7 linked regions of the Homo sapiens genome follow. The protein of the gene in region 5 interacts with the protein of the main gene of each other region in a pairwise test. Each region holds a gene or a part of one and is shown on either strand. Other genes may lie near its edges.

The links.
Region 1: the proteins of CACNA1A (region 5) and SUMF2 interact in a two-hybrid assay, tested with the Homo sapiens proteins (one study listed by BioGRID and IntAct).
Region 2: the proteins of CACNA1A (region 5) and MEGF8 interact in a two-hybrid assay, tested with the Homo sapiens proteins (one study listed by BioGRID and IntAct).
Region 3: the proteins of CACNA1A (region 5) and AGRN interact in a two-hybrid assay, tested with the Homo sapiens proteins (one study listed by BioGRID).
Region 4: the proteins of CACNA1A (region 5) and RBM12B interact in a two-hybrid assay, tested with the Homo sapiens proteins (one study listed by BioGRID and IntAct).
Region 6: the proteins of CACNA1A (region 5) and MATK interact in a two-hybrid assay, tested with the Homo sapiens proteins (one study listed by BioGRID and IntAct).
Region 7: the proteins of CACNA1A (region 5) and SRRM4 interact in a two-hybrid assay, tested with the Homo sapiens proteins (one study listed by BioGRID and IntAct).

The regions. Positions count from the first base shown.
Region 1 is NC_000007.14:56,067,286-56,070,785, forward strand, and holds part of SUMF2 (inactive C-alpha-formylglycine-generating enzyme 2 isoform b precursor), read left to right. Parts: intron 1-1,196; coding exon 1,197-1,353; coding exon of another isoform or gene 1,354-1,362; intron 1,363-3,500. UniProt on the Homo sapiens protein: Lacks formylglycine generating activity and is unable to convert newly synthesized inactive sulfatases to their active form. Inhibits the activation of sulfatases by SUMF1.
Region 2 is NC_000019.10:42,373,701-42,378,391, forward strand, and holds part of MEGF8 (multiple epidermal growth factor-like domains protein 8 isoform 1 precursor), read left to right. Parts: intron 1-1,806; coding exon 1,807-3,075; 3' UTR 3,076-4,691. UniProt on the Homo sapiens protein: Acts as a negative regulator of hedgehog signaling.
Region 3 is NC_000001.11:1,049,929-1,053,867, forward strand, and holds part of AGRN (agrin isoform 2 precursor), read left to right. Parts: coding exon 1-109; intron 110-304; coding exon 305-401; intron 402-498; coding exon 499-663; intron 664-797; coding exon 798-909; intron 910-1,103; coding exon of another isoform or gene 1,104-1,115; intron 1,116-1,324; coding exon 1,325-1,441; intron 1,442-1,524; coding exon 1,525-1,717; intron 1,718-1,799; coding exon 1,800-1,887; intron 1,888-2,064; coding exon of another isoform or gene 2,065-2,088; intron 2,089-3,532; coding exon of another isoform or gene 3,533-3,565; intron 3,566-3,824; coding exon 3,825-3,939. UniProt on the Homo sapiens protein: Isoform 1, isoform 4 and isoform 5: neuron-specific (z+) isoforms that contain C-terminal insertions of 8-19 AA are potent activators of AChR clustering.
Region 4 is NC_000008.11:93,727,080-93,731,625, forward strand, and holds the end of RBM12B (RNA-binding protein 12B), read right to left. Parts: 3' UTR 1,219-4,546; coding exon of another isoform or gene 1,126-1,218; 3' UTR 1,076-1,125; downstream 1-1,075. Other genes in the region: CIBAR1 (CBY1-interacting BAR domain-containing protein 1), read left to right, coding at 1,126-1,218.
Region 5 is NC_000019.10:13,296,479-13,301,169, reverse strand, and holds part of CACNA1A (voltage-dependent P/Q-type calcium channel subunit alpha-1A), read left to right. Parts: intron 1-513; coding exon 514-620; intron 621-1,816; coding exon 1,817-2,626; intron 2,627-4,691.
Region 6 is NC_000019.10:3,779,948-3,784,092, reverse strand, and holds part of MATK (megakaryocyte-associated tyrosine-protein kinase), read left to right. Parts: intron 1-59; coding exon 60-279; intron 280-873; coding exon 874-967; intron 968-2,420; coding exon 2,421-2,486; intron 2,487-4,145.
Region 7 is NC_000012.12:119,144,766-119,149,456, reverse strand, and holds part of SRRM4 (serine/arginine repetitive matrix protein 4), read right to left. Parts: intron 4,077-4,691; coding exon 3,772-4,076; intron 1-3,771. UniProt on the Homo sapiens protein: Splicing factor specifically required for neural cell differentiation.

The sequences.
Region 1 (3,500 bases), on a different chromosome or scaffold from region 5:
CCCATGCTATCTTATTGTTATTATTATCTTTTTATTTTTTATTTTTTGAGACAGGGTCTCACTCTGTCACCCAGGCTGGAGTGCAGTGACACAATGATAGCTCACTACAACCTTGAACTCCTGGGCTCAAGCAATCCTCCTGCCTTAGCCTCTGCACCCTGTCTCTGAGCCATTGCTCCTGGTTCCATGTTATTTTAATTGATACAGCTGCTACCTAAGAGATAGTGAGATATTATCCCTATTTTTCATACTTATTTTTTCTTTTATTAATAAGCTATGGTCGTCCATAGATATCCCCATTTTTCAGATGAAGAAATTGAATCTCAGCTGGGCGTGCTGGCTCACACCTATAATCCCAGCACTTTGGGAGGCTGAGGTGGAAGGATCATTTGAGCTCAGGAGTTTGAGACCAGCCTGGGCGACATAACAAAACCCCATCTCTACAAAAAATACAAAAATTAGCCAGGTGTGGTGGTGCACACTTGTGGTCCCAGCTACTCAGGAGGCTGAGGTGGGAGGATTGCTTGAGCTGACGGGGGCAGAGGTTGCAGTGAACCCAGAGTGCACCACTGCACTCCAGTCTGGGTGACACAGCGAGATCCTGTCACGAAAAAAAAAAAAAAAAAGACAAGAAATTGAATCTCAGATTAAGTAATTTGCCTAAGGTTTCCCAGCAAATTAAGTGGCAGAACAAGAATGTGAAGCCAAACAAACAAAACGCAAAAGGAATTTTCTTTTTTTCTTTCTTTTTTTTTTTTTTTTTTTTTGAGACAGAGTCTCGCTCTGTTGCCCAGGTGGAGTGCAGTGGCACACTCTCGGCTCACTGCAAGCTCCGCCTCCCGGGTTTACACCATTCTCCTGCCTCAGCCTCCCAAGTAGCTGGGACTACAGGCGACTGCCACCACGCCCGGCTAATTTTTTTTTTTGTATTTTTAGTAGAGAAGGGGTTTCACCGTGTTAGCCAGGATGGTCTTGATCTGACCTCGTCATCTACCCGCCTCGGCCTCTCAAAGTGCTGGGATTACAGGTGTGAGCCACCGTGCCCAGCCCAAAAGGAATTTAAAGCCAGATTTTTAAGCCTCCACATTTTTTGTTGTGTTTTGTTATACCATCATGAGTATTGCATATGATCCAAATATTACCACTTGTTTTATATATATGCATGTATTACTGGTAACTCTCTTTTTTCTCTGCAGGAAATGGACAGGCTACTAGCATGGTCCAACTGCAGGGTGGGAGATTCCTGATGGGAACAAATTCTCCAGACAGCAGAGATGGTGACGGGCCTGTGCGGGAGGCGACAGTGAAACCCTTTGCCATCGACATATTTCCTGTCACCAACAAAGATTTCAGGTACATCAGGTATTCTTCCAGGAGGAATGAAGACCCTCTCTAATCTCATTCTTTTTTCTTTCTTTTTTTTTTTTTTGTTTTTTGAGACTGACTCCCTCTGTCACCCAGGTGCTGGAGTGCAGTGGCGCAATCTCGCTCACTGCAACCTCCACCTCCCGGGTTCAAGCAATTCTCCTGCCTTCGCCTGCCGAGCAGCTGGAATTACAGGTGTTCACCACCACGCCCGGCTAATTTTTTTTTTTTTGTATTTTTTTAGTAGAGACGGGGTTTCTCCATGTTGGCCAGGCTGGGCTCGAACTCCTGACCTCAACTATCTGCCCACCTCAGCCTCCCAAAGTGCTGGGATTACAGGCATGAGCCACTGCACTTGGCCTCATTCTTAATATCTAAAGGAAAACTAACTTGTTCACTGTCACGTGTCATCTTTGCAGTGTACTATGGGATATGTTATTCAGATGAAGAACCTGAAATCCAAAGAGGTTTGACTGACTCTCTCAGTTAGTGGATGAGCTTGGCCTGGAACTCAAATCCCTGGGCTCTTGAGCCAGTGCATTTTCCATTACACTGGGCATAGCACTGAGAAATATAAGCAAACGCCAGTCACTCAACAGAAACCTCTTCTACATGGGGAAGGGATTGGGAGAAGGGACATCATAGTAGAGAGTCCTTTAAATTCCCCTTATAGGCCAGGTGTGCTGGCTCACACCTGCAATGTGAGCACTTTGGGAGGCCGAGGTGGGAGGATTGCTTGAGCTCAGGAGTCTGAGACCAGGCTGGTAACATAGGGAGACCCTATCTCTGCTAAAATAAATAAATAAGTAAATAAGTATATAAATATACATACACACACATATATATATAAATACATATATATAACAATCCATCTTACCCTGACAGTCTGCCCCCTGAAACTTACTAAACCATACCAAAGTATATGAAAATTCATTTTATTATTATTATTGTTATTGTTATTATTTTTTTGAGACAGGGTCTGGCTCTGTCACCCAGGCTGAAGTTCAGTGGTATGATCTCAGCTCGCTGCAGCCTCTGCGTCCCAGGCTCAAACCATCACCTGGGACTACAGGTGCGCACTATCACACCCAGCTTATTTTGTTTTGTATTTTTGGTAGAGACAGGGTTTTGCCCTGTTGCCCAGGCTGGTCTCGAACTCCTGGGCTCAAATGATCCTTCTGCCGTGGCCTCCCAAAATGCTGGGATTATAGGTGTGACCCACCATGCCTGGCCTTGAAAATCCATTTTATTTATTTGTATTTATTTATTTATTTAGAGACACAGTTTTCCTCTTGTTGCCTAGGCTGGAGTGCAATGGTGCGATCTCAGCTCACCACAACCTCCACCTCCTGGGTTCAAGCGATTCTCCTACCTCAGCCTCCTGAGTAGCTGGGATTACAGGCATGCACCACCACGCCCAGCTATTTTTTGTATTTTTAGTAGAGACAGGGTTTCTCCATGTTGGTCAGGCTGGTCTTGAACTCTTGACCTCAGGTGATCCACCTGCCTTGGCCTCCTGAAGTGTTGGGATTACAGCTGTGAGCCACCACGCCCGGCCAAAAATCCATTTTAAAAGCCCAATTTTTCACTTCTATTTGGTTCAGTGTTTTTCACCTCTTAAATGGAGTTAATAACAATAACACCTGTTACATCTATCTCTGATGGTTGTTGTGAGATGAGATATGTGATGAAGGGCTGGATGCAGTGGCTCACGTCTGTAATCCCAACAATTTGGGAGGCTGAGGTGGGAGGATCACTTGAGCCCAGGAGTTCGAGACCATCCTGGGCAACACAGACCCCCATCTCTACTAAAAATTAAAAAAAAAAAAATTAGCCCTTCATGGTAGCACACACTTGTAGTCTCAGCTATTAGGGAGGTTGAGGCAGGAGGATCACTTGAGTGTGGAAGGTTGAGGCTGTAGTGAGCCATGATTGCACCACTGCACTCCAGCCTGGGCAACAGAGAGACATCCTTTCTCAAAAAAAAGAAAAAAAAAAAAGATGTGCTGGAGACCTTTCAGAAAAGAGACACATTCCCCACCCTTAAATCTCCTGCTCCAGTGGCTTTATTCATGATCTCCAAAAACAGGAGATAACTCACATGATCTTCAGCTGGTAAGTGTATGAACAAAATA
Region 2 (4,691 bases), about 29 Mb from region 5:
TTTGGGTTTTTTTTTTTTTTTTTTTTTTTTTGATACAGGGCTTACTCTGTCACCCAGGCTAGAGTATAATGGCGCAATCATAGTTCACTGCAGCCTTGAACTCCTGAGCTCAAGTGATCCTCCTGCCTCAGCCTCCTGAGTAACTGTAACTATAGGCACACACCACCATGCCTGGCTAATTTTAAAAAAATTTTAAAGACGGGGGTCTTACTATGTTGCCCAGACTGGTCTCGAACTCCTGGGCTCAAGCGGCACTCCTGCCTCAGCCTCCTGAAGCACTGGGATTACAGGCATGAGTCACTGCGTCTGTTTTCTCTTGGTTCTAATAGTGATTGCAGTAATAACTAGAATGCCAGGAGCGCCTGCCACAGAGCTGGATGCTGTGCTGTGTAGACAGTGGTGACAGCATAGATATGAAAGGCTTTGCAAGACTGTGCTGGGGCCTCAGTGGGGTACAGACTTAAGAGGAAGACAGATTCAGAGACATTAAATGTCCTAGCTGGGCACAGTGGCTCATGCCAGCACTTTGAGAGGCTGAGGCGGGCAGATCACTTAAGGTCAGGAGTTCGAGACCAGCCTGGCCAACATGGTGAAACCCCTTCTCTACTAAAAATACAAAAATTAGTTGGGTGTGGTGGCGGACACCTGTAATCCCAACTACTCGGGAGGCTGAGGCAGGAGAATCGCTTGAACCCGGGAGGCAGAGGTTGCAGTGAGCCGATATCACACCACTGCACTCCAGCCTGGGCAACAGAGCGAGACTCTGTCTCAAAAAAAAAAAAAAAAAAAAAAGTCTCACCCCAGATCAGGTGGTCAGTTAGGCTTGGTGCCTGGAGTGACCCTGGTCTGATCTCAGAACTTGAGTGGTTTCCACTAAGCCACAGGAATCATAGCCGTTATCTATCCAGCCACACATTCATTCAGCACACAGTCATTGAGCACCTAGTATATGGCAAGCACCGTGCAGGTTGCTGGGGACACAGTAGGGAACAAAGCAGGCAAATGTTCTGTCTTTAGGAGTTTGCATTCTCATGGAGGCATCAGAAATGAACAAACAAGTCAGATGCTCGTGTGTTAGACAGCGAGGAGCGCTAAGGAAAGTTAAGTAGGAAGCGGGGGCTAGGGCTGTTGGGGAGTGGGAATGGTAGACGCAGGACACAGTGGCCAGGGAAGGCCTAGGTGAGAAGGAGGCTCTTGAGCAAAGATCTGAAGGAGGCAAGGGGGCTTGACAAGCTGACAAGTGACAGGAGAACCATGCAGGCAGAGGGTCCGCCAGTGCAAAGGCCCCAGGGTGGGAGGGCGCCTGGCACAGTATAGAAGAAGCATCCAGGCAGGCAGGCGAGGCTGGCTGACCCTGCGCCGAGTGCCATGCACATGATCTCAGTGGTCCTGTGAGCGAGCCGTGGTTACTCCCTGTGTGCAGAGCTCATGGGTTAAGTCTGTGTGCTCAGGCTCAGTGAGGTTAAGTCACTAGTCCAAGGCCACACAGCTAACAAGGAGGTAGAGCCAGAATGCAGCCGCGTTCTTCACTGCTGTGCCTCAGAGTGCCAGAGGCCTCAGTATCAGGGTGCTCAGGTCACTAGGGTGGCACCAGGGGCAGCAGTGCTGGAGTGCCAGGTCCTGGCAAGGTCTACACTGTGGCAGAGAAGGTCCGGGGGGTCACAGGGAAGTGACTGGGGCAGTGGGGGTGAGGCCCAGGGCAATGGCTACTTAGCAGTGGGTATAGAGTATTCGTCACTGCTGCTTGGGGGACAGGCTGGCACCGCACTCAGCCCTGATGGTCACCGCCTCTAACCCTGCCCGCAGTGCGCCAAGTGCCGGGAATCATTTCACGGGAGTCCGCTGGGCGGCCAGCAGTGCTACCGCCTCATCTCGGTGGAGCAGGAGTGCTGCCTGGACCCCACGTCCCAGACCAACTGCTTCCATGAGCCCAAACGCCGGGCGCTAGGCCCCGGCCGCACTGTCCTCTTTGGCGTGCAGCCCAAATTCACCAACGTGGACATCCGCCTGACGCTGGACGTGACCTTCGGGGCCGTGGACCTCTATGTCTCCACCTCCTATGACACCTTCGTGGTCCGTGTGGCCCCTGACACTGGCGTCCATACTGTACACATCCAGCCACCCCCAGCCCCACCACCTCCACCACCCCCTGCAGATGGTGGGCCCCGGGGGGCTGGGGATCCAGGAGGAGCAGGGGCCAGCAGTGGGCCGGGCGCCCCAGCAGAGCCACGGGTACGGGAGGTATGGCCGCGGGGCCTGATTACCTACGTGACGGTGACGGAGCCGTCGGCAGTGCTGGTGGTCCGCGGCGTGCGGGACCGGCTGGTCATCACCTACCCACACGAGCACCATGCCCTCAAGTCGAGCCGCTTCTACCTGCTGCTGCTGGGCGTGGGAGACCCAAGTGGGCCCGGCGCCAACGGCTCAGCCGACTCGCAGGGCCTGCTCTTCTTCCGGCAGGACCAGGCCCACATTGACCTGTTTGTCTTCTTCTCCGTCTTCTTCTCCTGCTTCTTCCTCTTCCTCTCACTCTGTGTGCTCCTCTGGAAGGCCAAGCAGGCTCTGGACCAGCGGCAGGAGCAGCGCCGGCACTTGCAGGAGATGACCAAGATGGCCAGCCGCCCCTTCGCCAAGGTCACCGTCTGCTTCCCACCTGACCCTACTGCCCCGGCCTCCGCCTGGAAGCCGGCTGGGCTCCCACCTCCCGCCTTCCGCCGCTCTGAGCCCTTCCTGGCACCCCTGCTGCTGACAGGGGCCGGTGGGCCCTGGGGACCCATGGGAGGGGGCTGCTGCCCACCAGCCATCCCCGCCACCACTGCTGGGCTGCGAGCTGGGCCCATCACTCTCGAGCCCACAGAAGATGGCATGGCTGGCGTGGCCACACTGCTGCTCCAGCTGCCTGGCGGGCCCCATGCACCCAACGGCGCCTGCCTGGGGTCAGCCCTCGTCACACTGCGGCACAGGCTGCACGAGTACTGTGGGGGTGGTGGGGGTGCTGGGGGCAGTGGGCATGGGACTGGTGCGGGCCGGAAGGGACTGTTGAGCCAGGACAACCTCACCAGCATGTCCCTCTGACATGCCCAGGGTTCTCATCCACAGCAGCTGGGTCACCTGATAGGGCCGCCCTGGACTTGGGGTCCCTCCACCTGGGGGCCCCTGGACACTGTCTACTTGGAGACCACTGGCCCCCTTCCCCCAGGGTTGCCCAGATGGGGCCTCCTTTGTTCTGCATTCAGCAGCTATTTATCGAGTACCTACTCTGTCAGGCACTGTCATAGGCGTGGGGCAAAGCAGGAACCAAGAGACGAGGTTCCCTGATCTCATGGGACTTAGGTTCTGGTGAAGGGAGACAATCAGTGCACATGCACACACCCCACACGCATACACACATGAACACATGCACATGTGCACACACAAGTAAGATGGCTTCAGAGAGGGAGAAGCACTGTGAGGCCTCCAGAGGATGTGGCAGTGAGGGACGATGGGGTGAAGTCAGCTGGGCATTCAAAGAAGCTAGACTGAGAACGCCTGAGAAGAACCAGCTACGGGAAGAGCTTTGGGAAGCAAAGGCAGAGGCCCTGGGGTGGGAGCAGGCTTGTTTTATTGGAAGGACCAGAAAACTGGTAAGTGTGACCCAGATCAAGTGTGAGGAGATGAGGCTGGGGATAGTCAGGGGCTGGATCACCCAGGGCCTTGTGGGCCCCACATAGGGTTTTGGGTTTTATTCTCAGGGCAATGGGAAGCTGTTGGATGGTTTGATGAAGGGGAGTGACAGGATCCGATGTACCTATTTAAGAATTTAAGAGGGTCGGGTGCGGTGGCTCATGCCTATAATCCTAGCACTTTGAGAGGCCAAGGTGGGCTGATCACAAGGTCAAGAGTTCGTGACCAGCCTGGCCAATATGGTGAAACCCCATGTCTACTAAAAATACAAAAATTAGCTGGGCATGGTGGCACACACTTGTAGTCCGAGCTACTCGGGAGGCTGAGGCAGAAGAATCGCTTGAACCCAGGAGGCGGAGGTTGCAGTGAGCTCAGATTGCGTCACTGCACTCCAACCTGGGTGACAGAGCGAGACTCCACCTCAAAAAAAAAAAAAAAATTTAAGAGGTCACTCAGTTGTGCTGTGGAGAATGGACCGGAGGGACAAGAGGGGCAGCAGGGATGGTGGGCTGGAGTAGGGTGCTGGCAATGAGGGAGTCTGGCTCAGATGTGGGATGTGTATGGAAGAATATAAATGATGGTGTGGATGTCAGGGTGAGGGAGGAGACAAAACCACGATGACCCCTAGCTTTGTGGCCTGAACTGTGGGTGGCTGAGGGGATCGTTAATTGAATGGGGCAGACTGAGGCTTGTGAGGAAGATCAGAGTCTGGTTCTTGACATGAGATGCCCTTCAGACATCTCTTCACTCAGGTCCAACTAGGGATACAGAAACACTGAATATTTCAACAGCAGAAATTGAATGGGGGGATTGATAGCGCTGGCGAGGGAAGCAGCTGGAAAGAGACAGATGGCACCCTGAGACAGCCCAGAGGTGAATAGGACCCCCAGGCTGCAGGGATAAAGCTCAGTGGTGGTGTTACCTCACCGGGGACCAGGGTCACACAGCAAAGCTGGAACAACAGAGGCGTGTTGTGGGGGAGCCTCAGAGGGGACAAAACCTCTGCCTGAGATCCCACCCCAGGTGGG
Region 3 (3,939 bases), on a different chromosome or scaffold from region 5:
CCCTGCCAGCCCAACCCCTGCCATGGGGCGGCGCCCTGCCGTGTGCTGCCCGAGGGTGGTGCTCAGTGCGAGTGCCCCCTGGGGCGTGAGGGCACCTTCTGCCAGACAGGTCGGGGGCGTGGGGCTCTCGGGGCAGGGGGGGGGGGGGGGTTGAACGTTTGGGCGGGTACAGGTTCCAGGTAGCATTGCAGTTAGGATGCGGCTCAGTCTAGTCTGGGTTTTGAGTTAGGATCCACACACGGCTGGCATGGGGTGCAGGAGGCCCCGGGGGTCAGGACTGAGGCCTTGGTGACTCTCCCTACAGCCTCGGGGCAGGACGGCTCTGGGCCCTTCCTGGCTGACTTCAACGGCTTCTCCCACCTGGAGCTGAGAGGCCTGCACACCTTTGCACGGGACCTGGGGTCGGTGGGGCAGGAGCAGGGGGAAGGGCCGGCCCCCACCTCCGTCTCTCCTGTGGGGAGGGGACAGCAAAGACACCCCGACTCCCCATGACCCCAGGGAGAAGATGGCGCTGGAGGTCGTGTTCCTGGCACGAGGCCCCAGCGGCCTCCTGCTCTACAACGGGCAGAAGACGGACGGCAAGGGGGACTTCGTGTCGCTGGCACTGCGGGACCGCCGCCTGGAGTTCCGCTACGACCTGGGCAAGGGGGCAGCGGTCATCAGGTGGGCCGGCAAGGGTGGCTCTGGGAGGCCTGGGGCACTGGCCCGGGGCCGGGGCACCAGCAGGTCGCTCAGGCCCTGGGTGGTCGCGTGGCCGGTGGTGGACAGAGCCCACTCACGCTGCCCCTCCTCACCAGGAGCAGGGAGCCAGTCACCCTGGGAGCCTGGACCAGGGTCTCACTGGAGCGAAACGGCCGCAAGGGTGCCCTGCGTGTGGGCGACGGCCCCCGTGTGTTGGGGGAGTCCCCGGTGAGTGCTCTGGGCCGCGAGGGGACTCCCGCTGCTGCCTGCTCTTCCTCCTCGGGCGGCAGCCCCGCCCCTGCCGGCGCTCACGGAGCTGTTTTTCTGTCCTGTTCTCTTGGCCGCCTGCCCTGTCCTCTGCCTCCTCTGCCTCCCTGCTCTCTGCTCTCGCTCTGCAACCCCACCCGCTCTTCGGAGGCCAGAAATCCCGCAAGGTACTGTCGGCCTCTCATCCGCTCACCGTCTCTGGCGCCTCAACCCCTAGGGTAGCTCCTCCCCCACTAAGGACCCTGCCATTTCTGTGTGATTAACGCTGCCCCCTAGATAGGCAATGGGCGGGTGGGGCGGGTGCGTGCAGGTGCCTGGGCCCTGGGTCTGCACCGTGGGTGGGCTCTGCACAGCCACTTACCTGGCGTCCCCGCAGGTTCCGCACACCGTCCTCAACCTGAAGGAGCCGCTCTACGTAGGGGGCGCTCCCGACTTCAGCAAGCTGGCCCGTGCTGCTGCCGTGTCCTCTGGCTTCGACGGTGCCATCCAGCTGGTATGTGGGGGCGGGGCGTCCCAGCAGGGCCTCCGGGGCGGGCGGGGTGGCAGGCGGGACAAGGCCCTCACCCTGCCCTGCAGGTCTCCCTCGGAGGCCGCCAGCTGCTGACCCCGGAGCACGTGCTGCGGCAGGTGGACGTCACGTCCTTTGCAGGTCACCCCTGCACCCGGGCCTCAGGCCACCCCTGCCTCAATGGGGCCTCCTGCGTCCCGAGGGAGGCTGCCTATGTGTGCCTGTGTCCCGGGGGATTCTCAGGACCGCACTGCGAGAAGGGTGAGCCTGGCACAGGGCAGGGGGCGGAGGCCGGATGGGCCCGGAGCCCACGAGGCCCCACCCTCACCTGCCTATCTCACAGGGCTGGTGGAGAAGTCAGCGGGGGACGTGGATACCTTGGCCTTTGACGGGCGGACCTTTGTCGAGTACCTCAACGCTGTGACCGAGAGGTAACGTGCCATCCTCTGCTGGCTGTCGGTTCCATCTGTGCCCTCGGGGCGGGACACCGGACCCCCACACCAGGAGGGCCCAGGAGGGGACGGCCCGGTGCTGCCACCTCTGTCCTCCCGCCTCTCTCTCACCTCCCGGTCCTCCCGCCTCTCACTGTCTGTCTCTTTGTTTCCAAGCGAACTGGCCAATGAGATCCCCGTGTGAGTAGAGCTCGGCGCCCCCCGCTCCCTCTCACTCCCACTCCTCCATCCTTCCTGGTGGGGAGCAGAGTCCGGAGCCCCCGGGGAACTTTCCATCCCTTGTGGCGGAGGATGGGGGTCCGGCGCTATTTGGCTGCAAGAGGCCGTTTCCTGCCTCAGAAGTGCAGTCGCCCCTCCCAGGGCACAGGCCGAGGGTCGCCCCACAGCCAACCCCCACCACTGAGGCTGTACACACCTGTGCGCATATGCATGCATGTCTGTGTCCGTGTGCACTTCCGCGTGTGTGAACATGCAGCTGTGTCTGTGCGTGTCTATGTATATGGAGTGGATGTGCAAGTGTGTGTGAATATCCAGCTGTGTGTGTGCATGGGTCCATGTATATGTGTGTGTGTATATGTGGGGGGGACATGTAGATATGCGTGTGTGACTATGCGGCCGTGTGTGTGCATGGCTCCATGTATGTGTGTGTATATGAGGGAGACATGCAGGTATGTGTCCGTGTGTGTGTGTGTGCATATGGGTCCATGTATGTGTGTGTATATGAGGGAGACACGCAGGTGTGTGTCTGAGTGTGTGCGCACATGGGTCCATGTATGTGTGTGTATAGGTGAGGGAGACATGCATGTGTGTGTCCGTGTGTGTGCATGGGTCCATGTGTGTATAGTGTGTACACATGGGTCCATGTATGTGTGTGTATATGAGGGAGACACGCAGGTGTGTGTCCGAGTGTGTGTGCATGGGTCCATGTGTGTATAGTGTGTGCACATGGGTCCATGTATGTGTGTGTATATGAGGGAGACACGCAGGTGTGTGTCCGAGTGTGTGTCCATGGGTCCATGTATGTGTGTGTATATGTGGGGGAGACAGGTGTGTGTCCGAGTGTGTGCATGGGTCCGTGTATATGCGTGTATATATGGGGGGATATGTAGATGTGTGTGTGTATGAACAGGTGTAAGTGGGGAGCACTCAGGTGTGTCTGTGTGTGTTCGTGTACACGTGTGTATGTGTGTGAACATGGAGGGGTGTGTGTGTCCGTGTGTAGGTTTGCGTGCATGCACACATGCATGTGTGTACTGGGGCATCCAAGCCCCTGGTCTCCACTCCATACCACCCTACGCCTACCTCCTTGATCTCTGCGCCCAGCCTTGGCTGTGCTCCCCTGCTGTCTGCACGTGGGTGTCTGCACGTGGGTGTCTGCATGTGGGTGTCTGTGCCCTCAAGTGTCTCGTGTCTGCACGTGGGTGTCTGCACCCTCACGTGTCTCGTGTCCGCACAAGCATGTGTAGGTGTCCCTGCTGGGCTCTTTGGTGGGCGGCCAGTGATCCTCGAGGTCACGCATGTCTTCTGTGGGTGCCTGCTCCTTGCACCCCACAGTGTTGAGATGGGTTTGCATTGGCCCCGCCTGTCCCCTGCTCACCCGCCTCCCTCTCTTCCTGCTTCTAAGCCCCGAAACTCTGGATTCCGGGGCCCTTCACAGGTGAGCACGTGGCAGCAGTGCCTGCAGACCCCTGGCTGGCCCATCTGTCCTCCCGCCCGTCTCTCTGATCTCTCTCTGCCAGGCTGCCCCTGTCTCCATCCCTCTTCTCCCTCCCACTGTCGGTGTCTGCCCACCAGCCACCCCTGGGTCCCGTCACAGCCCTTGTGGCCTCCGCAGCTGGGGCCCTTGTCCTCCCGCCTCCCCCACCCTGTCCTGTTGCCACCTTCCTAGAGGCCCTGACCTGCCCTCTGCCCTCCAGCGAGAAGGCACTGCAGAGCAACCACTTTGAACTGAGCCTGCGCACTGAGGCCACGCAGGGGCTGGTGCTCTGGAGTGGCAAGGCCACGGAGCGGGCAGACTATGTGGCACTGGCC
Region 4 (4,546 bases), on a different chromosome or scaffold from region 5:
CACATAAAGCAGTATGACTGTGTTCTAATAAAATTCTATTTACAAAAGCAGGAGGCTGGCTGGGCCGCAACTTGCCAAACCCTGATCTAGAGAGCTATGCCCTTTTCATATCTAGCCTTCAGAATATAAAATTCAACAAACTTATTTTCAAGATACAACTTTTAGGTAAATTTGATACCATACTTTCTATTTTCATTTGATTCTCCTGTAAGCATTTATTTTGTTTTATATGTATGTATCTCTCCCCCAACCCAATTGTATTTTTTTTATTCCGGCATTAAGTGCCTTGAACATAAATTCCATAAATTTACTTTTATAGTCCATATAAAGTTTTGACTACAACTAATAATGTCACCTTAGCTAACACTTGTATAGCACTTCAGAATGCATTATCCCAGGGTTTCTCAACCTCAGCACTGCTGACTTTGGGACAAATAATTGGGCCCACCAGGGAGGAAGAAGGGGACGGAATACTGTCCTGTATATTGTGACGACATCAAGCAGATATTAGCATCCCCCGCCTCTACCTACAACATGCCAGTAGCACACATAAACACACAGCCCCAATACTGACAAACAACAGTGTCTCTAGACATTCCCAAATGTCCCCTGGGTTAGATATAATCACCCTCAAGAGAAGTTTTAAGCAATATGCCCCACGTGGCGGCAGTCAGGCAACTTAAAACTGGTGAATTCAGATTCTCAACTCATTCCATTTAAATCACACTACTTTTACATCAGTATTTCTGTCCCACTGCCTAGCTGAAATATCCTTCTATTTTTGCCATCCATTTTATGATTCTCAAATGCTGTTTCTGTGACCCAAAATTTATTTTTAATATTCATAATATAGAGTCTATACTTTTAATGTTTTTGAAGTATTGATGGCTATCCAACTAAAATCAAATGGCTAATTACACATTTTTATTCAAAAAAATGTGATGAATGAAAAAACTGGCTTCTGAGCTTAAAATTCATAGGGAATTTTCACTACTAAAAATTATGACATGGACATTTTTTTGAAATATTTGTTGTGTGCCCTTTAATAGCATAAAAATATACCAAGAATGTAAAATTTTTTTAAGTTAGTATTTTTATTTTAAAAAGTGTGTTAACTTTTAACAGGTATCCACTTGTCGACTAAGAAAGGATCAACAAGCAGAAGATGATGAGGATGACGAGTTAGATGTTACAGAAGAAGAAAATTTTCTTAAGTAAACTACACATTTCCATTTTCATCATAAATGACTTGAAATCCACAATGACTAAATTGTAGAACTTTATACTCACTTTGCTATGTTAAGCCTCAAAGTGAAGTCCAACTGGAAACAGAAAAATAATTAAAGGAAACTTATGCTGACCAAAAATGAAGGCTTTAAAAAATATTGCATACCAGTCATTTCAACATCCTACCTAGTGTTACATGATTTTTGTGTAAGTGCCTTTTTTTTTAAAGATGGTGTATTTCAAAGTATTTCATATTAATGTACTATATCTACTTGAAGTTCCAATAGTACATTATGACAGAAACCAAAAGATCTAACAATTCTGCTTAGCTTTTTGGTTAAGACTCCATGCTTTCATTACCAGAAAAGGGTCTTACGTAGTCATTATGATTCATGGAATTCTATTCCATGAAGCCTTAAGAAAAAAAACTTTTTTTAACTTTCCCTGAAACTTTATCATTTGATAAGTAAATTTACTTTTCAAGAAGAGTATAACCAAAGAGTAAAGATAATGTGACACTAAGTTATCAATGTTTTATGAATACACATAAGGCATAAATTTCAGCTGTAAAAAAGCTACATTCAATCTGACTCTGGTTTTAAAACAAAACTGCTGTCATAATTATACATGATACTGCAACTTTTGGAAGGCTAATTTGGTGGAATGTTGCCTCATCATAGAACACCATAGATCATTAAAAATTCTATAAAAATTTTACCAAGCTACCATATAGTTAATAAAAGGGTATACAGTCACTTTTATTTCTGAAAATATAAAACATTGAGCCTTTCAGTGTATCTGATGCTTCTCTTTTGGTAAGGAATACTTTTATTTCATGGATCCCAGGCAGGCATATAAAAGTTACGGAATTTATAAAATCATTTGGGATAATTAGAAAATGCAATTATTCATAACAGAAAAATAAAGACTTTCTAGAAAGCTTCTGACTTTGTCAATCATGGCTCTGTTCTTAACAAAGCACTCCTTCCTGAGAATAGTCCTAAGTGACAAAGTTGTTTCAGTACTTTTTTGTAAAATATTTAAAACATTTTAAAACCCTAAATTGATATTCTTAAGAAACTCAAGATATCATTGGATATTTACTGCTTCCTCACTCAGTATTTAAATTTGGTTGTACTTCGGGGGAAAACAACAGAGTTATTATTTTGCTGCTTACTAAATAGCAACTTCTCTTGAGCATTATTTGCCTTGTTTGTAAAGTTAAAACTGCGTAAAACAGTAATTCTGGAATAAAACATACATTCTGCCTACCTCAAAGAAATATTCTAAGAACAAAAGGAATACTATCCATGAAAATACTTTCATTAATGTAAAATTTTCATTATTTAGACCAGCCTAGGTTGGCAAACTTCTTAAAGGGCCAGATAGCAAATACTGTTATTCTTCGTGGGTTTAGGCAAATTCAAGACTATTATACAGGTAACTATGTAACCATGTAAGACTTAAGTACACTTAAAAAATGTGAAAAACCATTCCTAGCTTCCACTACAACAACAACAAAAAACAGGCAACCAATCCAACCAACCCAGCCTGTAAGTCTCCATCTCTTATCTCCAAAATAGGAATACAAATTGAGTATCCTTTATCTGAAGTGCTTGGGACCAGAAGTATTTAAGACTTTGGATTTCTTCAGATTTTGGAGTATTTGCATTATACCAGTTCAACATTCCTAACCCAAAAATCTGAAATCTTAAATGCTGCAATGAGCATTTTCTTTGAGCATCATGTTGGCACTCAAAAAGTTTGTGATTTTCGGAGCATGTGAAATTTCAGATTACCAGATTAGGAATACTCAACCTGTAGTACATTTACTAGGATTATCAGAATTAAATGATAGTTAATTCATACATAATTATACATCATATAGTATCTAATACAGCTCAATAAACAACAGCTAATATTTACTGCAAAAACAGAGGCAGCAAGGTCACTACTTAACAGGTGATATATGGATCAAGAATCACTGCTCTTAACAGTGATCTCAGTAAATTAATAGAAATGCACTCCTAACATGATTTTTACCTATCTCTTGGTTGTGGGATTGACTTTCTAGACATGATCTACATTTTTTTAGATAATTTCTAGACAAAAATGTTTGGCTTTAAGACAAATGCCACTGGGTATCAGGCTAGAGAATACACCTCCAGTGTACCTGGTATACCTTGAGGATAGGAGAGGAAAAACTGGCTATGAGACGACAATTACTGAAGCTGAGTGATGTGTACATGAAAATTTACTATTCTTTTTTTATATTTGAAATTGATGAGGTGCTGGGAAGCTGGCTTTCTGAGGGGACAACAGGAGGGGAATTCCTTGATTTGCTGCATTTATCACTTTCCATGGTGTAAAATACTCCTGCCATGGCCAATTTGTTATTGACATATCACTAAAGGCAGAGTTGGAGAGAGATGTGCAAAGATGGCTCCCAACTAGAAGATACCACTTTCTGTAATCAACTTTTTATAATGAAGTTTAAAAATATTAAGCCCTGATACATTATAGGGTAAAAGGAAATATTCATATAAATTAATTTAAAAATCAAAATACAAGGCTGGGCACAGTGGCTCACACCTGTAATCCCAACACATTCTGGGAGACCAAGGAGTGAGGATTGCTTGAGGCCAGAAATTTGAGAACAGCCTGGGCAACACAGTGAGACTCTGTCTCTACAAATAATAAAAAATTTAGCCAGACAAGGTGGCACACACCTGTAGTCCCAGCTCTCAGGAGGCTGAGGCAGGAAGACAGCTTGAGCCCAGGAGTTAGAAGCTGCAGTGAACCATTATCAGACCACTGCACTCCAGCCTGGCCAGCAGAACAAGACTCTGACTCTTAAAATAATAAAACTACAAAGCTTATGTTTACTCTAGCTGGCCTCTTATCTACCACCACCATCCCACCTCAGCCCAGTTTGAAATGCAATTCCACAGTAAGTAATCCCTCACGTTAAGCTTCATCTTAGCTTTATTCCTTTGTATCTGAGAAGCATTTTTTAACTTTCCATATATTATTCAAAATGGGTGACCAAATGAACCATCTATACAATCTTTGCTCAATTAAAAATATCATTTCTACTTTCTTCATTGTGCTTGGTTTGGATATTCCAAACAATCAATTTAACATTATCCTAGCTACTTACAAGCTTATACTTTAAAGAATCATACTGAGGTGCTTTTTCATATCAAATTTACCTGTTTATTCATTCCATAGCAAGCAGGATATTCACTATTTAAAACAAATTTAAGCAGATTTCTGTTAGATTTCTTTAAATCACTGAAAAGTAACACAAAAATACATA
Region 5 (4,691 bases):
AGCCTGGGCAACATAGTGAGACCCTGTCTCTACAAAAAAAAAAAAAAAATTAAATGTATACAGGCATAGTGGCATGCACCTGTAGTCCCAGTTGCTTGGGAGGCTGAGGTGGGAGGATTGCTTGAGCCCAGGAGTTCAAGGTTACAGTGAGCTATGATTGTGCCACTGCACTCCAGGCTGGGCAACCAAGGGAGACTCTGTCTCTGAAAACAAACAAAAGAAAAAAAAATAGGCTGCAGGAAAGTCTTCATTGTAGGAAGAGAAGGGACATTTTTATTTTTTGTTATCTGGCTGTGTGTTAAAATAGGCTTCATAATGAGTTAGATGTCAAACTTATACACAGAGGGGATAGCAATACACTTAACCAATAGCAGGTACCCATTCCAATTGGGGAGCCTTGGTTCTGATTGGTCGAAATATTTCAAATGTTGCCCCTGGTCAGCAACAGGGTCAGAAGTGAGTCCCCAAGGCCTAGTTCATGTTTTGTGAACAAAGATTCCACGTGCCTTTTAGGACGAGCAAGAGGAAGAAGAAGCAGCGAACCAGAAACTTGCCCTACAGAAAGCCAAGGAGGTGGCAGAAGTGAGTCCTCTGTCCGCGGCCAACATGTCTATAGCTGTGTAAGTGCCCCTAATCCCTGGGATGCTACCCTGGCTCCTGAACGTCCACACTATCCCAGGCACAGATTTGGGAAGCAGTGGGGGTGGTCCTTGACAGAACTGAGCTTTAGGAAGAGACACTTCTTGTCCTTCCACCCACTTTCACTCAATAAATATTTGGTTAGCAGCTGTTATGTACCCAGCACTGTTCTAACTTCTGGGGATACAGCATTAACAAGGAGGAAAAAAAAAATCCCACCTGTGTGTAGCCATTCTAGCAAGGGAAGGAGTCAATAAATTAGATAAATAAGTAAATTATATATTGTGTTAGAAGGCGATGGAACTACAGAGAAAGTAGGGGAGGGAAATAGCAAATGCTGGGAGTGAAGAGAGTTGTGATTTTAAACGAAGTTGTCAGGGAAGGCATCACCTAGAATAGGGGTCCCCAGTCCCGGGGCTGTGGACTGGTACCAGGCCGAGGCCTATTAGGAACGGGGCTGCACAGCAGGAGGTGAACAGTGAGCAAGCAAGCATTACCGCCTGAGCTCCACCTGCCGTCAGATCAGCAGGCAGCATTAGATTCTCATAGGAACACAAACACTATTGTGAACGGTGCATCTGAGGGATCTAGGTTGCGTGCTCCTTTTAAGAATCGAATGCCTGATGATCTCAGGTGAAACAGTTTCATCCCAAAACCACCCCCCACACCTAGGTCTGTGGAAAAACTGTCTTCCACAAAACTGGCCCCTGGTGCCAAAAAGGTTGGGGACTGCTCACCTAGAAGGTTACATGGCCTGAAGGAGGTGAGGGAGGAGCCACTGGGGGGCCTGGGGAAGGGCATCCCAGGCAGAGGGAACAGCATAGGCAATGGCCCTGAGGCAGGAACATGCCTGATGTGAAGGAGGCCTGTGTGACTAGAATCGAATAGTAAGTGTGAGGAGGTGAAGGCAAGGAGGTGACAAGCAGATTACACAGGGCCTTCTGGGTCAGGGGGGAGGACTTGGGCTTTTGCCCCTAGCCAGGTGGGAGCCATGGAGGGTTCTTGAGCAGAGGAGGCTGGGACCTGACTCAGATGCTCACAGACTCCTAGCATTCAGTGGGGAGTAGAGGGTGGAGAGCAGGAGTGGGAGGCTGAGATGTGGGTTGGTTCGCCTGGGTCATCCATCCAAGCTACAGTGCCTAGCAATGCTCTAAGTCCTGTGACCATGCCACTGCAGGAAAGAGCAACAGAAGAATCAAAAGCCAGCCAAGTCCGTGTGGGAGCAGCGGACCAGTGAGATGCGAAAGCAGAACTTGCTGGCCAGCCGGGAGGCCCTGTATAACGAAATGGACCCGGACGAGCGCTGGAAGGCTGCCTACACGCGGCACCTGCGGCCAGACATGAAGACGCACTTGGACCGGCCGCTGGTGGTGGACCCGCAGGAGAACCGCAACAACAACACCAACAAGAGCCGGGCGGCCGAGCCCACCGTGGACCAGCGCCTCGGCCAGCAGCGCGCCGAGGACTTCCTCAGGAAACAGGCCCGCTACCACGATCGGGCCCGGGACCCCAGCGGCTCGGCGGGCCTGGACGCACGGAGGCCCTGGGCGGGAAGCCAGGAGGCCGAGCTGAGCCGGGAGGGACCCTACGGCCGCGAGTCGGACCACCACGCCCGGGAGGGCAGCCTGGAGCAACCCGGGTTCTGGGAGGGCGAGGCCGAGCGAGGCAAGGCCGGGGACCCCCACCGGAGGCACGTGCACCGGCAGGGGGGCAGCAGGGAGAGCCGCAGCGGGTCCCCGCGCACGGGCGCGGACGGGGAGCATCGACGTCATCGCGCGCACCGCAGGCCCGGGGAGGAGGGTCCGGAGGACAAGGCGGAGCGGAGGGCGCGGCACCGCGAGGGCAGCCGGCCGGCCCGGGGCGGCGAGGGCGAGGGCGAGGGCCCCGACGGGGGCGAGCGCAGGAGAAGGCACCGGCATGGCGCTCCAGCCACGTACGAGGGGGACGCGCGGAGGGAGGACAAGGAGCGGAGGCATCGGAGGAGGAAGTAAGTGGAGGTGACCTCGAATCCGCAGAATGACGGTAACATTAATAATGACAACAGCCAAAGTAGCACGTGCTGTGTATTTGTTTATAAAAATATATTATAAAATGCTGTATTTGGCCAGGCGCAGTGGCTCACGCCTGTAATCCCAGCACTTTGGGAGGCCGAGGCGGATGGATCACGAGGTCAGGAGTTCAAGACCAGCCTGGCCAAGATGGTGAAACCCCACCTCTAATAAAAATACAAAAATTAGCCGGGCACGGTGGCAGGCGCCTGTAGCCCCAGCTACTCAGGAGGCTGAGGCAGGAGAATCGCCTGAAAACAGGGGGCGGAGGTTGCAATGAGCCGAGATCACACCACCGCACTCCAGCCTGGGCGACAGAGTGAGACTCTGTCTCAAAAAAAAAAAAAAAGTGCTGTATTTGGCCAGGAGCAGTGGCTCATGCCTGTAATCCCAGCACTTTGAGAGGCCGAGGCGGGCGGATCACTTGAGGTCAGGAGTTGGAGAACAGGCTGGCCAACATAGTGAAACCCCGTCTCTACTAAAAATACAAAAATTAGTGGTGGTGCCCACCTGTATTCCCACTACTCAGGAGGCTGAGGCGGGAGAATCAGTTGAACCTGGGAGGTGGAGGTAGGTTGCAGTGAGCTGAGATCGTGCCATCACACTCCAGCCTGGGCAACAGAGCAAGACTCTGTCTCAAAAAAAAAAAAATGCTGTATGTTTTTGTTTTTTTGACACAGGGTCTCGCCTGTTGCCCAGGCTGGAGTGCAGTGGCAGTCATAGCTCAGTGCAGCCTCTACCTCCCGGGCTCAAGCCATCCGCCTCAGCCTCACAAGTAGCTGGGACCACAGACATGTGCCACATGCCTGGCTAATTTTTGTAGAGACAGTGTTTTGTAGAGACAGGGTTTCACTGTGTTTCCCAGGCTGGTCTCAAACTCCTGAACTCAAGCATTCCGCCTGCCTTAGCCTCCCTAAAGTGCTGGGACTACAGGGTTGAGCCACCACACTCAGCCTAATTTTTTTACCTTTAGTAGAAATGAGGCCTGGCTCTGTTGCCCAGGCTGGTCCCCAACTCCTGGCCTCAAGCAATCATCCCACCTCAGTCTCCCAAAGTGTTCGGATTAGAGGCTTCACAGATGGGGAAACTGAGAGATTGAGTGAGCTCCTCAAGGTCATTCCTCTAACCAGTGTCCTTGAACCCAGGCTCTCTGGCACCAGAGGCCTTGAGCATTTCAGGGAAACTATTAAGAGAAGCCCCACTGTCGTCCAGAATTATATAGTCTTCTGTGTTCTTGCTGTGTGACTTTTGCAAAGTGACTTCATATCTCTGGGCCTCACACAATGGAAATAGTGGGATCTAATTGGGTCATTGCCAGGATTGAATGAGGTAATGTATGCAAAGGGCCTGGAAGAGCAGCTGACACATAATAAGTGCTCGGTAAATTTAGAGCATTTTTGGCCATTTTCAGCCAACTCTATTTACCTAATGCTATTCTTTGGAAGTTTGAAAAGCCACTCTGTTGGGAGGCCAAGGTGGGAGGATCACTTGATACCAGGAGTTGGAGACCAGTCTGGGCAATAGAGGCAGACCCCATCTCTATAAAATATAAAAAATTAAACAGATGTGGTGGCATGCACCTGCAGTCCCAACTACTTGGGAGGCTGAGGCAGGAGGGTCACTGGAGCCCAGGATGTCTAGGCTATGATGAGCTATGATTGCACCACTGCACTTCAGCCTGGGCGACAGAGCAAGGCTTTGTCTCAAAAAATAAAATAAAAAATAAAGAAAAAGAAAAGGCACTTTGGGCCGTTAGAATTGAAGGGAGAGCAGAGTTTCAAAGCTTTGGATGCAGCGGGATGTGGTGGCTCATGCCTGTAGTCCCAGCACTTTGGGAGGCCAAGGTGGGAGGATCCACTTGAGCCCCGGAGTTCAAGACCAGCCTGCGCAACATAGTGAGACCTCACCTTTTAAAAATAAATAAAAATGTTAGAAAGCTTTTGAGGCATCTTCCAGGCCAGCAACTTATCCATTCAGAACCAGCATCCTCTTTTTCATAACGAC
Region 6 (4,145 bases), 9.5 Mb from region 5:
GGACAGCAAGTGACCCCCCCTCCACAGCCCAGTCTGACCCACCCCTTCCGTGGCCGCAGGTGGTTCCACGGGAAGATCTCGGGCCAGGAGGCTGTCCAGCAGCTGCAGCCTCCCGAGGATGGGCTGTTCCTGGTGCGGGAGTCCGCGCGCCACCCCGGCGACTACGTCCTGTGCGTGAGCTTTGGCCGCGACGTCATCCACTACCGCGTGCTGCACCGCGACGGCCACCTCACAATCGATGAGGCCGTGTTCTTCTGCAACCTCATGGACATGGTGGAGGTGCTGCCACCCAGAGGCCCCACCCCGTCCCTGCAGTGGGGCAGCCCAGGGACTCCGGAGACTCCCCTACGTAGAGATAGAGGGGCGGGTCACCTGACCTCCATCCCTTCCCCAGCAGCTGGGCAGACACCATCCCTACCTCCTGTGCTGATCACCCGGGACCCCCTGAGCTCTGTGCTTCCCCAATGTGGAGATGAAGGGGGTATTCCCCAGGGCCCCCCAGGCACCCCCAGGCCCCCATCCCATCTCAGATGGGCAGACAGGAGGACCCCCACAGTAGGATTCCCCTTAATGCAGAAATAGGGGGGCTGATCCCTATGGACTGCCCAATCTACAGGTGGCCTGAGTCAGCCTGGTTCTACCTCCAGGGACTAGAGTGACTCCTCTGGGGACCCCCCAGGACCCCCCAAGTTGATACCAATCCAGAGGACTCCCCCTCCTTTTGGCTTGCCTCCTTTCCCGTTCCTATGGAAACCAGCCTTTCTCCTCCTCCCCGGTCCCACCCACCCCACCCAGAGGCCACCCGGGAACGGAACAGGATGCTGGGGTTCCCCTCCCTGGGGCTGGGCTCATGGCTGTCCCACCATCCTGCAGCATTACAGCAAGGACAAGGGCGCTATCTGCACCAAGCTGGTGAGACCAAAGCGGAAACACGGGACCAAGTCGGCCGAGGAGGAGCTGGCCAGGGGTAGGGGACGCCCAGGAGGGCAGACCCCCTTCCCTACCCACGTTAGCCCAGTCCGGGAGGAAGGGCCCTGGGGCCCCGCACCTCTGAGGCCAGATCACCCAAGCCTGTCTCCATGCCCAGCTATGGGATAGAAGACCTGGGCTGCCTCGGGGGTGCCCACAGACACAGATCAGTCCTTTATTCAATAGGTCCCCAGCTTCGCCACTCATCTGTCACCATCATCCACCATCTGAGCCAGAAACCTGGCCCCGAACCTCCACCCACCCCATCCTCCAGCATTCCCTCCTTGGCCAGGTTCCCAAGACCTGGTGAATCTTCTCCCCTCCCCTCCCCACAGCCCAGCCTCAGGCCCTCCCATCAGACCGCCTCCTTCCCAGAGGGCGAGTCCCCCTTCCAGCCCAGGCCTTGAGTGCAGCCTCAAGGTTATCTTTCTATCATGAAACCATGCCTCCAGGGAGAGAGGCCCAGCAGCTCCACCACCTTCCAGAACCTGCCTGCATGGCCTGAGCCACCTTTCCAGCCTCATCTGCAAAGCCCTTCCTCCACACATCCACCCCCTCCCAGGTCAACTGTGATCATCGTTTTCTTCATGCCTCTGAGCCATTGTATATTCTGTTCCCTTCACCTGAAATGCTTTTCCAGCCCCTAAGTAGTGAAATCCTCAATATTTAAGGTCAAAAGCAAATGCCTCCTCTGACCCCATGTCTGTCTCCTTGAAAGTATCTCTCTGCTGGGGAAGTCTGTACCCATCAGGGATGGCATCCAGGTGGAGACTAGCATCACCCTGGCCAATGATCTCTTAAGACCGTGGCATTTGGAGGGGGCACTTTCTGGAGGGAGAAGAGAACGTCTGCAGAACCGACCAGAGGGCAGTGGAGGGGACAACACAGGAGTGCTTGGGAGAAGGGTCAGGGAGGCTAGAGCCCTGGAATATTCTGGAACCTTTATGGGTCTCCATGTTGTGTTTTTTTGCTCTGTGTGTGTTTCTGGGGTGGTCAGAGGTAAAGAACTGTGTAGGGAAGAGCCCAGAGGGTATTTGGAGGGACAAGAGAGCCAAAGAGAAAAGGGCAGCTCTTATCTCTGAGAACTGAAGTGTTTCCTGGCACTACCCCTTGGGCCTGACTGGGAGTTCCTGGAGGGCAAGTGTGGGGTCTGAGGGTCTCAGCCAGGCAGGCCCCCAGCTTTGACTATTCACACCACTATCCCTCCTGTAAGCCCCTTTTTGTTCAGGTCAACCTGAGATAGTTCTGTTGCTTGCAACAACAATAATTGGTACCAGGAGTGGGGTGTCTCTGATATGTCCTAGGGGCATTGCCAGGCCCAGCAGCCACTCAAATGTGTATCCACAGCTGCAGCACTGTGAGAGACATCACCTAGTCTCTCACCAAGTAGAACCCCCAATGGGAGGATTTAGGGGGCCCATTACCCCTCTGACTGGGTCTTCACTCCACAGCGGGCTGGTTACTGAACCTGCAGCATTTGACATTGGGAGCACAGATCGGAGAGGGAGAGTTTGGAGGTGAGTGGCGGACTGGGTTGGGGGTGCTGAAGGAAGATGGGAGGTGCGTATTGAGGCTTTGGAGTCACAGAGCTGAATTCAAACCCATACTTAACCACCTACTAGTTGTGCAGCTGAAGACGTGCAAATCCTCTGAGCCTCAGTTTCCCCCTCTGGAACAGGGGGTAATGGCAGCTGTCATGAGGAGTAAGTGAACTCAAGCAGGCGCTCAGTCAACGTTAGTGACTTCTTCACACTGCCAGGGTCTTGTATGGTCAGTCCCACTGTTTGGAATGTTTGAAACACCATTCCCTGAAATTATTATTCTGGAAGGCTCTGGGGTTTAGATCAGGGGTCGGCAGACTCTCTGTAAAAGGCCAGATTGTAAATATTTCCTGCTTTGTGGGCCAGGTAGCTGCTGTCACCACTACTGAATCCTGCCCTTGTGGAGTGAAAGCGACCACAGACAATATGTAAACATATGGGCGTGGCCATGAAAACTATGACCCAGAAATTTGAATTTTGTGTAATGCTCACATGTCCTGAAACAGCACTCATCTTTTGATTTGTTTTTACAACCATTTAAACATGCAAAAACCAGCCAGGCACGGTGGCTCATGCCTGGAATCCCAGCACTTTGGTAGGTCGGGGCAGGAGGATCCCTTGAGCTCAGGAGTTCAGGTGCAGCCTGGACAACGTAGCGAGACCCCCATCTGTACAAAAAAAAAGCCAGGCACAGTGGAGCATGCCTGTAGTCCCAGCTACTCAGGAGGCCGGGATGGGAGGATCCCTTGAACCCAGGAATTTGAACCTGCAGTGAGCTGTGATCACGCCACTGCACTCTACCTGGGTGAGAGAGTGAGACCCTGTATCAATATTTTAAAAATAAAAATGTTGGCCGGGCACAGTGGCTCATGCCTGTAATCCCAGCACTTTGGGAGGCTGAGGCGGGCGGATCACGAGGTCATGAGATCGAGACCATCCTGGCTAACATGGTGAAACCCCATCTCTACTAAAAAAAAAAAAAAAAAAAATTAGCCGGGCGTGGTGGTGGGCGCCTGTAGTCCCAGCTACTTGGGAGGCTGAGGCAGGAGAATGGCGTGACCTGGGAGGCAGAGCTTGCAGTGAGCAGAGATGGCGCCACTGCACTCCAGCCTGGGCGACAGAGCAAGACTCCGTCTCAAATAAATAATTAATTAATTAAAAATAAAAATGCAAAAAACATTTTGAGCTGAAGGGTCTTGCAAAAAGAGGTGATAGGTAGATTTGGCCCCGAGGGGGTGGGGGTTCACAGACCCCTGGCTTAGATGGTTCTCTCTTTGTTTTTGTTTTTTGTGGGGTTTTTTTTGAGATGGAGTTTCGCTCTGTCACCCAGGCTGGAGTGCAATGGCACAATCTTGGCTCACTGCAACCTCTGCCTCCCGGGTTCAAGTGATTCTCCTGCCTCAGCCTCCCGAGTAGCTGGGATTACAGGCATGTGCCACCACACCTGGCTAGTTTTGTATTTTCATTAGAGACAGGGTTTCTCCATGTTAGTCGGGCTGGTCTTGAACTCCTGACCTCAGGTGATCCGCCTGCCTCAGCCTCCCAAAGTGCTGGGATTACAGGCGTGAGCCACCGCGCCAGAGCCAGATGGTTCTCTGATCTTGGGTCTGGAGCTTGCAAGGGCGGCAGGGGTGA
Region 7 (4,691 bases), on a different chromosome or scaffold from region 5:
AGCTCCCTGGAGACAGCTCCCTGGGGACCTTTTCAATGTTCTGAGAATTTCACAAGCATCATTTCATTCCCAACAACCTTCTGAAGCCGACATCATTATTTATTTATTTTTTGAGACAGTCTCGCTCTGTCGCCAGGCTGGAGTGCAGTGACGTGATCTTGGCTGACTGCAACCTCCGCCTCCCAGGTTCAAGCGATTCTCCTGCCTCAGCCTCCCGAGTGGCTGGGACTGCAGGTGCGCACCACCACACTCAGCTAGTTTTTGCATTTTTAGTAGAAATGGGGTTTCACCATGTTGGCCAGGATGGCTTTGATCTCTTGACCTCGTGATCCACCTGCCTTGGCCTCCCAAAGTGCTGGGATTACAGGCATGAGCCACTGCGCCCAGCTGCCAATGCTATTATTACCCCCAGATTTACAGAGAAGTCTCAGAAGGGTTTGTTATTTCCTCAAAACCACCCAGAGCCCCAAACCTTGATCTGTGCAGCTCCAGAGTCCCCACCCCTCCCACCTCACCAGCTCCCTACCTTCAGTGTCTATGGTTCCTTTGATTTAGAGCTGATGTCTCTTCCACTCAGCCCATATTTATTGAGCCCTCTCTGCTCATAAGTGGCATGACATAAACAGTCATGGACTCAACCATCATTTATATTTCAAAGTGAAAGGCTGGGTCTAAATTACTTAATTTGGCTGTCCATGGAGATCAAATTAAACAGGTAACTGCTAGATGTCTCTCAGGCTTTAGTTCCTGTTTGGGGGACATATTTGTATTTGAATTCTGGTGCTGCCACTTATTAACTGAGTTTCTCAACCACTCTGAGCCTCAGTTTCCCCATCAGGTAAAAAAGGGTTACAAATAGTACTGTCCTATAAAGGTTTTGAGGAGCTCGGGAAGATTATTTCTGGAAAGCATTTGGCAGTGTACCTAGCATGTGATTTGGGCTCAACGAATATGAACTGCCGTTATTATTGTTGTTGTTATTGCTATTTCAATTTTTCCTGCATAATAGCACTGCTGTATATCAGTAAACATGTGTCCTCCTCCTCCCTTCTGGGAACTTCACTGCCTGTTCTTGGAGACACTGACATTGGCTCTGGCCCAGCTCAGGTTCTCAGTCAAGCTTGGGTGTGAGCTGAGGCCAGGGATGACCTGGGGCAGGCAAATGGGAAGGCAGTTCTGCATGTGGATGTCAAGCTGTTTGTCCAGGACTGAAATGGGGTATGTGTTAGGGACAAAGAGTGCTCTGTCTTTGAAGAAGCTGTTAGCTGCTTCAGTGCTAAGGCGTTAGTCATCTTTTGAAAATTTTGGCTATATGGAACAAAGGCAAACTCCCACCCTCAGAAGTAGAAAAACCTCACTGTTAGCATGACAGAGGGCACCAGCAAAGCTTTTCCACCCATCCCGCAACTGTGCATCTGCCTCATTAATTATAAGCTCCTGAGAAAAAGGACTGTTCCATTTTTAAATCCCCAGCACCAGGCTGAGTGTCTGGCAGAGAGGACTTGCCTGATAAACAAGTTGAGGAATAAACAACAGAATGAATGGTACAGACTAAGTGATCAGTAAATTTTAGTAGCTATTATGATGACAGTAACCTCAGTGATTAGCATTTTGTTGTGATTTCTTGAGTGAGAGAGTTAAGCGGATGACGAAGTAGAATTACAACTGGCTCATATGCATCTGTGTGGAAGAGTTTTCTGCAGGAAAACTGCATCTAGTGAGTGTGTTAAGATGGGTAAAAAAATGGAGAAATCTCAATGTTCTCTGATATGTTGATAAATTATACTATGGTATATCTGTATCTATAATTAATAAACTTTATTTTTTAGAGCAGTTTTAGTTTCATAGCATGATTGAATGGAAAGCACAGGGAGCTCCCATATACTTCTTGCTGCTACACACGCACAGCCTTATTCCCCACTATCAGCATCCTCCACCAACGTGGTCCATTTGCTACAATCGATGAACCTCCATTGACACATCATTATCACCCAGAGTCTATAGTTTACATCAGAGTACCCTCTTGGTGTTATACATTCTATGGATTTGGACAAATGTATAATGACAGTTATCCACCATTGTAGTGTCACACAGAGTAGTTCCATTGCCCTAAAAATCCTCTGTGCTCTGCCTATTCATCCCTCTGTCCCCTCACCCTCTGGCAACCACTTATCTTTGTACTTTCTCCATAGTTTTGCCTTTTCCAGAATGTCATACAGTTGGAGCCATGCAGTGTGTGACCTTTTCACATTGGCTTCTTTCACTTAGTAATATGCATTTACATTTCCTCCATGTCTTTTCATAGCGTGGTACCTCATACCTTCCGAGCACTGAATAGCATTCCATTGTCTGGACGTATCATAATTTATGTATTCATTCACGTACTGAAGGATATTCTGGTTGCTTCCAAGTTTTAGCAATTACAAATAAAGCTGTTGTAACATCCAAGTGCAGGTTTTTATGTAGAGATAAGTTTTCAATTCATTTGGGTAAATACTGTGATATGTTCTTTTTTTTTTTTGAGATGGAGTCTGGCTCTGTCACCCAGGCTGGAGTGCACTGGCGCAATCTCGGCTCACTGCAAGCTCCACCTCCCAGGTTTATGCCATTCTCCTGCCTCAGCCTCCCAAGTAGCTGGGACTACAGGCGCCCGCCACTATGCCTGGCTAAATTTTTGTATTTTTAGTAGAGACGGGGTTTCACTGTGTTAGCCAGGATGGTCTCGATCTCCTGACCTCGTGATCCACCCGCCTCGGCCTCCCAAAGTGCTGGGATTACAGGCGTGAGCCACCGCACCTGGCCTGTGATATGTTCTTAAATGACTTACAATTAATTTAATGTTAGACTTTCTTTCATTTTTTTTTTCTTTTGAGATGGAGTTTCACTCTTGTTGCCCAGGCTGGAGTGCAATGGTACAATCTCAGCTCACTGCCACCTCCGCCTCCAGGGTTCAAGCAATTTTCCTGCCTCAGCCTCCCGAGTAGCTGGGATTACAGGCATGTACCACCACACCCGGCTAATTTTGTATTTCTAGTAGAGACAGGGTTTCTCCATGTTGGTCACGCCGGTCTCGAACTCCTGACCTCAGGTGATCCACCCGCCTCGGCCTCCCAAAGTGCTGGGATTACAGGTGTGAGCCACCACGCCTGGTCAATGTTCGACTTCCTTCTAAGATTACTGGTAAAATTGTCATCTGTTTTTTTGCCTGCCTAGCCTCCATCTCTCCTGATACCAATAACCTGGCTTTTCCTGTAGAGGAGTGTGGGAAGGTTCGACTCATTAGCCCTAGTGATGGCATCTGACACATTCTGGCCAACAGCATAGCATCCCCTGGGACAGTGATGGGCAGATGACCTAAGCTGGGCCAAACAGAACCAATAAGCACCTGCCTTGGTGTTTGGCTGAAATCTTTGAGAAAGAAGCATTGTTTTCCTGTTGGCTGGCTAAACCAATAGAATGTTAGCTGCTTGGCATATTTGACAATGCTTTGGGAGGATCTGCTTGAGAATAAGGCCAGTAGGATGAGGAAGCAGAATAAGAGATGTAATGAGAAAGACGGATTTCCAGCAACATATTTTTGAACCCCTGAATCCAGCTGTACCTGAAGCTAGTGCCACTAGTGTTTTAAAACAAGCCAGTCTGAGTTGAGTTTCATCTCTCTTACAAATAAAATAATCTTGGGGGTGGAGTGGGGGAGGCTGGGATGAGAGCATGAGAAGGTGGAGCTAAGGTGGGAGACCGTCTACCCCCGACCCTGTGTGGTGCACTGACCTTGACTCTCTGCCCCTGCTGGTGGGGGAGAGATTCTCCAACATGGCCCCCTTGTTCTGGGGTGAGGAGGTGGTGAAGGAGTTCCCTGAATCAGAGGTGTTGCCACTGTTGAGCTCCCGGCTCTTGCTCAAGCCCCCACTGGGGCTCCCCTTCTCCTGGCCCCGAGACCTGGCTGAGCTGGTTTGCGTGGAGGGTGGCGAGGACGTGTCATTTCCTGAGTCGTACTCCTGGGAACGTCCTCGCGAGGTGGTGAGCGGGCTGGCTGTTTTGGTAAAGAGGTCAGCAGCAGACCCCGACCCAGTGATCTGAAAGCAAAAAGACCCGTTGGACACTGCTGAGCGCTGGGCCCATGGGCTGTTTCTAAATAACCAAGAAATGTTTACCGTCATGATGCACTGTAACGAAAGGAAAGAGAGAGAGAGGAGAAGAAAGAAGAGACGCCAAAAAACAAAAGCACAAATTCCTGAAGGAATACCACAGAAAGGAGATTTTTTTTTTACCCCCTGCTAGGATAACTGGAAGATTTAGGTATCATGCAGAGAAAAAGCATGCGATTCAGATTAAACAAAAGAAAAAGGAAATTATACAAAATTTAATTTCTAATGAATTAAACAAAAGAGTCAACTCAATAGAAAGGGGGTGTAAACACCCTTAACCTAAAACAATAATAAAAAATAAAGGAAGGGAAAGGGGAAAAAGAAATGGAACTATGGGCCTGAAAAAATATATCTTGGAAATTAAAAATAAAAGCAGATAAAGCCAAAATTTTAAACTTCAACCAAATCCTCAATTAATTTAACAATTTTTTTTGAAAAGAAAAAGTTGCCTGAATAGAAACCTAAACAAATATCACATGGGGAAAAGAAATGAAATAAAGATGAGAGTTTGTTTTTTGTTTTTTTAAATATAAAGTCAAGGTC